Linked DNA regions of Homo sapiens. The protein of the gene in region 1 interacts with the protein of each later gene in a pairwise test. Each region holds a gene or a part of one and is shown on either strand. Other genes may lie near its edges.

Region 1 (3,749 bases):
CCTGGAGGGTGCATACACTCACCGCAGCCTCGAAAGCCCTCTTGAGGCTGGCCAGCTCGTAGAGGACACAGCCCAGGGCCCAGATGTCACTCTTCTGGTTGTAGGGCTTGCCCTCACACAGCTCAGGGGAGATATAGCATGGGGTACCCACCACCTGCAGGATAGAAGCTGGGATCACAGCCCTGCAGGGAGGGAAGACCAGGGGCTCTGTGCATAAGCCCATTTGGGGACAGCTTCTTCTCAAAGCAAGCCAAGGGGCTTCCTCCTGCAGAACCACCCAAACAGGGGCCAAAGGGCCAAGGGTTTTTTAGGGGGAGGGGAGGAGGCAGGGTTAGGTCCTGGCCCTCAAGACTTCTAGTGCCCTGGAGGTCCCTTCCATGCCCAGGCACCGTGTAGGCCTTGCTCTTGCTGCTAAGGATCTTGGAGATGCCGAAATCACCGATCTTGACGACCATGCGGTGTTTGTCAAGCAGGATGTTCTGGGTCTTGAGGTCTCGGTGCAGGATGAGGTGGGTGTGCACATGATGCAGTGCAAGCAGGATCTGCACGAAGAAGTGCAGGATGGTCTCCTCCTCCAGCAGGGAATTACAGCGCTTTTGGATGAACTCAGCCAGAGTGCCGCCTGTGGCCCAAGGGACTAATCAAGATCCAGGCTTTCTCACACCTACGACAACCCCTCTCCATTGTTGTTGTTGTTTTTTTTTTTTGAGATGGAGTCTCGCTCTGTTGCCCAGGCTGGAGTGCAGTGGCATGATCTCAGCTCACTGCTGCAAGCCCCCCCTCCCGGGTTCAAGCCATTCTCCTGCCTCAGCCTCCTTAGTAGCTGGGACTACAGGTGCCTGCCACCACACCCGGCTAATTTTTTTTTTTTTTTGTATTTTTAGTAGAGACGGGGTTTCCCCGTGTTAAACAGGATGGTCTCGATCTCCTGACCTCATGATCCGCCCGCCTCGGCGTTGGCCTCCCAAAGTGCTGAGATTACAGGCATGAGCCACCGTGCCCAGCCAACAACCCCTCTCCTTTTATGTATGGAACAGGGCACTGGGACCAGAGAGGACAAGGGGCTAGCCGGGGTCAGATAATTGGGACCAGAACTCTAACCCTTGGCCATGCCCATTCCAAGGAGGGAAGCCAGGAGATCTGTGTCTGCCTGTCCCAGAGGTAAGAGGCCCTCCAGCCAGGCCACTGTAAGGAGGCTGGCCCACCTGGTGCATATTCCATGGCGATCATAAGGGCTTTGTCTTCCAGGAAGTTCTCGTAGTACTCAATGACATTGGGGTGGTTGAGCAGCTTGAGGACCTGGCACTCATTCTGGGCTGCCTGCCGCTCTTCCTTGGTCATCTGTTCCACTGGAATCTGCTTGATGATCACCAGCTTCTGGTCAGCCTTTCGCAGGCACAGGTGCACAATCCTAGGGATACGGAGGACAGGGACAGGTTACCAGCTAAGCCTCCAGCCACATATCAGGCAGGGCGGTGCAGCCTAGTGACTGATGTCTCTTGGAAGAGGGTTCTAGACTGAGAGGTCATCTAACCAAGCGCACAGAACACTGAACTTGGGAACAGGGAGAACTGATTACAAGCTGTGTGGGACTTCAGTTTCACCACAGGCACTGTGAGGTAAAGTTAGTCTTGATCTCTAAGTTCCCACAGACTGCCTGGGTTCAAATCTGGGTGCCTCCTCTTACTAGTTATCTGGTTTGATACATTATGTGACATCATTGTCTGGAAAATGAAATGGGCCTCCCAGGGTTGTTGAGAGGATGGAATGAGAAAATGCATGTAAGGCACTGAGTGCAGTGACCAGCACAAAGAAAACGCTCAATGAATAGAAGCCATTCATATTATTTTATTTTAATTCTGTGGTTAGTCTCCATAAAAGCAGGGACTACAACATTCTTGTTCACCACAATAACCCCAGTGCATAGCCCAATATTTAGCACACAATAGGCAGTCAATAAGTATTTGTTGAATGAGTGGACTATAAGCTGATCTAAGTCTCAAATTTTTACCTCCAGATCAGGCTTCTCTTCTGAACCCTAGACTCAGATATCCACTTGAATGGCTCACAGTCATCCTAAATTTTAACAAATTCAAAATAAAACTCTTGATTCCTGCCTCCAAACCTTTCCTTGCTCAGTCTCTTCCATCTCAGTAAATGCTACCATCATCCTCCAGTTATTAAAATCAGAAACTGCTAAAATCAGAAACCTGAGGCAGGGCCAAGTGGCTAAGGCCTGTGATCTCAGCACTTTGGGAGGCCAAGGCAGGTAGATCACTTGAGTCCAGGCGTTCAAGACCAGCCTGAGCAACATGGTGAAACCCACTCTCGCAAAAAAAAAAAAAAAAAAAAATTAGCTGAGCATGGTGGCAAGCCTCTGTGGTCCCAGCTGCTCTGGAGGATGAGGTGGGAGGATCACCTGAGCCTAGGACATTGAAGATACAGTTAGCCATGATTGCGCCACTGCACTCCAGCCTGGGTGACCAAGTGAGATGGTCTCAAAACAAAACAACAAAAAAACAGACACTTGAAAATCAGCCTAGGCCGGGCGAAATGGCTCACACTTGTAATACTAACACTTTGGGAGGCCGAGGTGGGTGGAGCATTTGAGGTCAGGAATTTGAGAACAACCTGGCCAAAATGGTGAAACCCCATCTCCACCCAAAATACAAAAATTAGCTGGGTGTGGTGGCAGGCGCCTGTAATCCCAGCTACTCGGGAGGCTGAGGCAGCAGAATGGCCTGAACCTGGGAGGTGGAGCTTGCTGTGAGCCGAGATGGCGCCACTGCACTCCAGCCTGGGCGACAGAGTGAGACTCCACCTCAAAAAAAAAAAAAAAAAAAAAAAAGAAAAGAAAAAAGAAAATCGCCCTAGAATCTTTCCTCCATTTCACACAAGCAAATCCTATTTCTACCTCTGCAATACTGTAAATCCATCCAATTCTCTGTGCCCTCTCTACAGCCCTTGCCCTATAGTCATCATAATTTCTCGCCTAAAATACTGTATAACTCTCCAAAATGGTCCCTTTCACTCCTGTCACCCTCAAATCTAAATTCTACATGAACCAGAATGACATTTATTTTTTATTTATTTTTCTTTTTTTTATAGATATGGGTCTCACTATGTTGGCCAGGTTGGTCTTGAACTCGTGGCCTCAAGATATGCTCCCACCTCGGCCTCCCAAAGTGCTGGGATTATGGGCATGAGCCACCATGCCCAGCCCCAGAATGCAATTTAAAAATCTTACTATCCTGGCTAACACGATGAAACCCCGTCTCTACTAAAAATACAAAAAATTAGCTAGGCATGCTGGTGGGTGCCTGTAGTCCCAGCTACTCGGGAGACTGAGGCAGTAGAATGGCGTGAACCCGTGAGGCGGAGCTTGCAGTGAGCCTAGATTGCGCCACTGCAGTCCAGCCTAGAAGATAGAGCAAGACTCCGTCTCAAAAAAAAAAAAAAAAAAAAAAAAAAAAAAAAAAAAAAAATTGGGGCCAGGCGCGGTGGCTCACGCCTGTAATCCCAGGCCTTTGGGAGACTGAGGCAGGCGGATCACGAGGTCAGCAGATCGAGACCATACTGGCTAACATGGTGAAACCCCGTCTCTACTAAAAAATACAAAAAAATTAGCCGGGAGTGGTGGCGGGCGCCTGTAGTTCCAGCTGCTAGGGAGGCTGAGGCAGAAGAATGGCGTGAACCTGGGAGGCGGAGCTTGCAATGAGCCGAGATGGTGCCACTGCACTCTAGTCTGG
Region 2 (3,749 bases), on another chromosome or scaffold:
GGGGTGAAGTGGAAGTTGACTCAAAACCCTGGAAGGTTCCAATCACAGGGCCTGAGGGCAGACAATGCCTGTGTTTAAATTCCAGCCCTGCCTGGGTATGGTGGCTCACGCCTGTAATCCCAGCGCTGTGGAGTTCGAAACCAGCCTGGCCAACATGGCAAAACCCCATCTCTACTAAAAATAAAAAATACTAGCTGGGCATGGTGGCAGGTGCCTGTAATCCCAGCTACTCGGGAGGCCGAGGCAGGAGAATCGCTTGAACCTGGGAAGCAGAGGTTGCAGTGAGCCGAGACCATGCCACTGCACTCCAGCCTGGGCAACAGAGCGAGACTCCATCTCAAAAACAAAACAAAACAAAATCCATCCCTGTCACTGTATAGCTGTGGGGCCTCAGGCAAGGTAAACTCTGTGTCCTAGTGAGCTCTTCCCCTGAAGTGGGGATGATGATGATGGTAATGTCTTAGGTTTTTTGTGATTTAATGACAAAGTGCTTGGATTTCACTAAGCCCATAGGAGATGTTGATTGCTCTGATGTTTGGCTCTTCCTAGACAAGGTGATCTGCCTGCTTCGGCCTCCCATAGTGCTGGGATTACAGGCGTGAGCCACTGTGCCCGGCCTGTTTTTGGTTGTATAATACTTTAAAAGATTGATGAAAAACCTTGCCTTAAAAAAAATCATGACAAAATAAAAATATGTGGAAGCCATAAATTAAAGGACAAAAATTATCTTGCTCCTTATTAATTCAAAATGAAAATAACTTTTTGGACTCAGTATTCAAACATGTCAACTGAATATTACCAATTTAACAACGCAAACTTAAGAAAGCAAAACGTAACGACGCAAAATTAAGTAAGCCAACGACCCCACCACCTGGTCTGCCTACACCAGACATATGGGAGTCATTTGAGACGGTGGGGTTTGCCTCAAATCCGACTCTTCCTCTCTAGCGTCTTCAGCTGGCCTAGCTAGGCCCTCACCATGTCCCTTTGGACTCCTGAATTAGTTTTCTAACGTCTTCTGCCCCTGGTCTTCTCCAAATTCACTCTGCAGCCCTACTGGTCTTTCAAAAATCAAAATTTGATGATATAAACAGGCTAAAATCCAAGGGCTTCCCAAGATAAAAATCCAGACACTTCGCCATGATGCCCAAACCTCTCCATGCTCTCCGACTACCCCTTCTCTAAGTCTCCTCCTGCTGCCTGCCCCCAGCCCTAATAGTTTGGTAAGCACCCTCCCTTTCTGGCACAATCTGTGTATACTTGCAGTGATCACACAACTTCATGCTCTTCCCCTGGGCTCGCCTGGTCCTGTCTCCTGGGATGTCCCCATCCTGCTGTGTTTGTGGAAATTTCCTTTTCACTATCCTTGGTCCATCTGTAGCCTCCTTGAGTATTTTTCTCATTCTCGCCCACCCCTTTGTGGATGGCTCACCCCCGAGCCCCAGTGAGTGCTGAGAGTGTGGCCAGGGGTCCTGGTCTGTCCGCCCACATCTCCAGGAGCTCCATGACAGGAGAGGCCCTGCTTCTTCAACTTGACATTCCTGTCGGCACATAGTAGGAAATAACTAATAGTTTTATAATTAGAGCTACAAGGCACCCAATTTGAGAACAATCTGACCTCCTAAATTTTATTTTATTATTATTATTTTTTTGAAATGGAGTTTTGCTCTTGTTGCCCAGGCTGGAGTGCAATGACGCAATCTCTACTCACTGCAACCTCCGCCTCCCGGGTTGAAGTGATTCTCCTGCCTCAGTCTCCTGAGTAGCTGGGATTACAGATGAATGCTACCACACCTGGCTAATTTTTTGTATTTTTAGTAGAGATGGGGTTTCACCATGTTGGCCAGGCTGGTCTCGAACTCCTGACCTCAGGTGATCCACCTGCCTCGGCCTGCCAAAATGCTGCGATTACAGAAGTTGGCCACTGTGCCAGGGCTGGCCTCCTACATTTTAGATTTGAAGAAACTGAAACACTGACAGGTGGAAACTTGCCCAATCTCATTCATCTGATAATTTCTTGAATGAAAAAGCCAGCCTGGGGAAAACCTTTTCAGCATCAGTATCACATCTGTGATGCTGCTGCTCTATAACATCAAGATACCTAAATACAAGATTTTTCTCAGAATAACAAGATAATTTTATTTAAAGGAACGTCTTAGGGTATAATATTTGTAAACAGTGTTCAGTGTCAAATGGAGACTCCAGGGGATACTTTTTCCAGAAAAATGCACAAAATTTTTCACAGATTTCAGAGGACACTTGGAGCCCTCTGCAAGTCCACAGTCAAAGTGATCTGAAAACCGTGAATGTGGGTGCAGCTGTTTGGTCATGTTCAGCTTGACCCAGAACATCAACTGCAAAATGTAGAAAACAGCTGCACCCGCATTCACGGTATTCAGATCCCTTTGACTGTGGACCTGCAGAGCGGCTCCAAATGTCCTCTGAAATTGGTGAAAAATTTTGTGCATTTTTCTGGAAAAAGTTAAAAGTAATGGCGAGGCCGGGCACGGTGGCTCACGCCTGTAATCCCAGCACTTTGGGAGGCTAAGGCAGGTGGATCACGAGGTCAAGAGATCAAGACCATCCTGGCCAACATGGTGAAACCCTGTCTCTACTAAAAATACAAAAATTAGCCAGGCCTGGTGGTGCGCACCTATAATCCCAGCTACTCTGGAGGCTGAGGCAGGAGAATTGCTTGAACCCGGGAGGCAGAAGTTGCAGTGAGCCAAGATTGCACCATTGCACTCCAGCCTGGGCGACAGAGTGAGACTCCATCTCAAAAAAAAAAAAAAAAGGCAATTACTTTTGTTTAGTTTTTTGAGATGGAGTTTTGCTGTTGTCACCCAGGCTGGAGTGCAATGGCACAATCTCGGCTCACTGCATCCTCTGCCTCCTAGGTTCAAGCGATTCTCCTGCCTCAGCCTCCCAAGTAGCTGGGATTACAGGCGCCCATGACCACACCAGGCTAATTTTTGTATTTTTAGTAGAGACGGGGTTTCACCATGTTGGTCAGGCTGGTCTCCAACTCCTCACCTCAGGTGATCCGCCCGCCTCAGCCTCCCAAAGTGCTGGGATTACAGACGTGAGCCACTGTGCCCGGCCTATGGCAATTACTTTTGCACCAAGTTAATTTTACCAACAGCCTTGGGAAAAGGCATCTCGTGGTCACATACCTCCTTAGGAGAAAGTATAGAAATGTAGTCTTCATAGATTATCCTTGCTTTCTCTTCAATAATGTTTTTATTAGCTTCCTTTTTCAGTTCCTCACAGGCCATCCAGAAGAGCATATTTTCCTCACTGAATTCTGTTCGGAGGAATTCACGGAATGCATTCCTTCCTGCTGGAGTGACCATTAATTTGTCAAATGACTGAGCCCAGGCGTTGACTTCTTCCAGAGTAGGAGCAGGGCTTCGTGGAGACCAAAAGAGAGGGGGCAAAAGGGAACTGTTAGTGGTAGTTAATTGGAATTCATCATTAGGAACATATCTTTTCCTCCTCCAAGAATGAAAAATATATGCATTTAGGCCCTTTTAGGAAGGGAAAGAACTGTTCGCATTTCCTCAAACCTTTGGGAAAAACACATGAATATGATACTTTCAAATTTTTTGCTGGATTGCATACCAAAAGGCTTGCAAACCAAGTTGCTAGAATAAATGCTAAGAACATGCTTGTTTACAAATGGGCACATCTTGAAATATTTTAAAAACTGTAAATGTAAAGAAAAATCCTGCAACCATCTGACCCAAAAC

The links. Proteins that work in one complex are often made in the same cells at the same time.
Region 2: the proteins of NEK8 (region 1) and RGS20 interact in binary tests that used the Homo sapiens proteins (3 or more experiments, as listed by UniProt).

The regions. Positions count from the first base shown.
Region 1 is NC_000017.11:28,731,645-28,735,393, reverse strand, and holds part of NEK8 (serine/threonine-protein kinase Nek8), read right to left. Parts: intron 1,412-3,749; coding exon 1,206-1,411; intron 623-1,205; coding exon 390-622; intron 155-389; coding exon 23-154; intron 1-22. UniProt on the Homo sapiens protein: Required for renal tubular integrity. May regulate local cytoskeletal structure in kidney tubule epithelial cells. May regulate ciliary biogenesis through targeting of proteins to the cilia.
Region 2 is NC_000008.11:53,953,735-53,957,483, reverse strand, and holds part of RGS20 (regulator of G-protein signaling 20), read right to left. Parts: intron 3,409-3,749; coding exon 3,174-3,408; intron 1-3,173. UniProt on the Homo sapiens protein: Inhibits signal transduction by increasing the GTPase activity of G protein alpha subunits thereby driving them into their inactive GDP-bound form.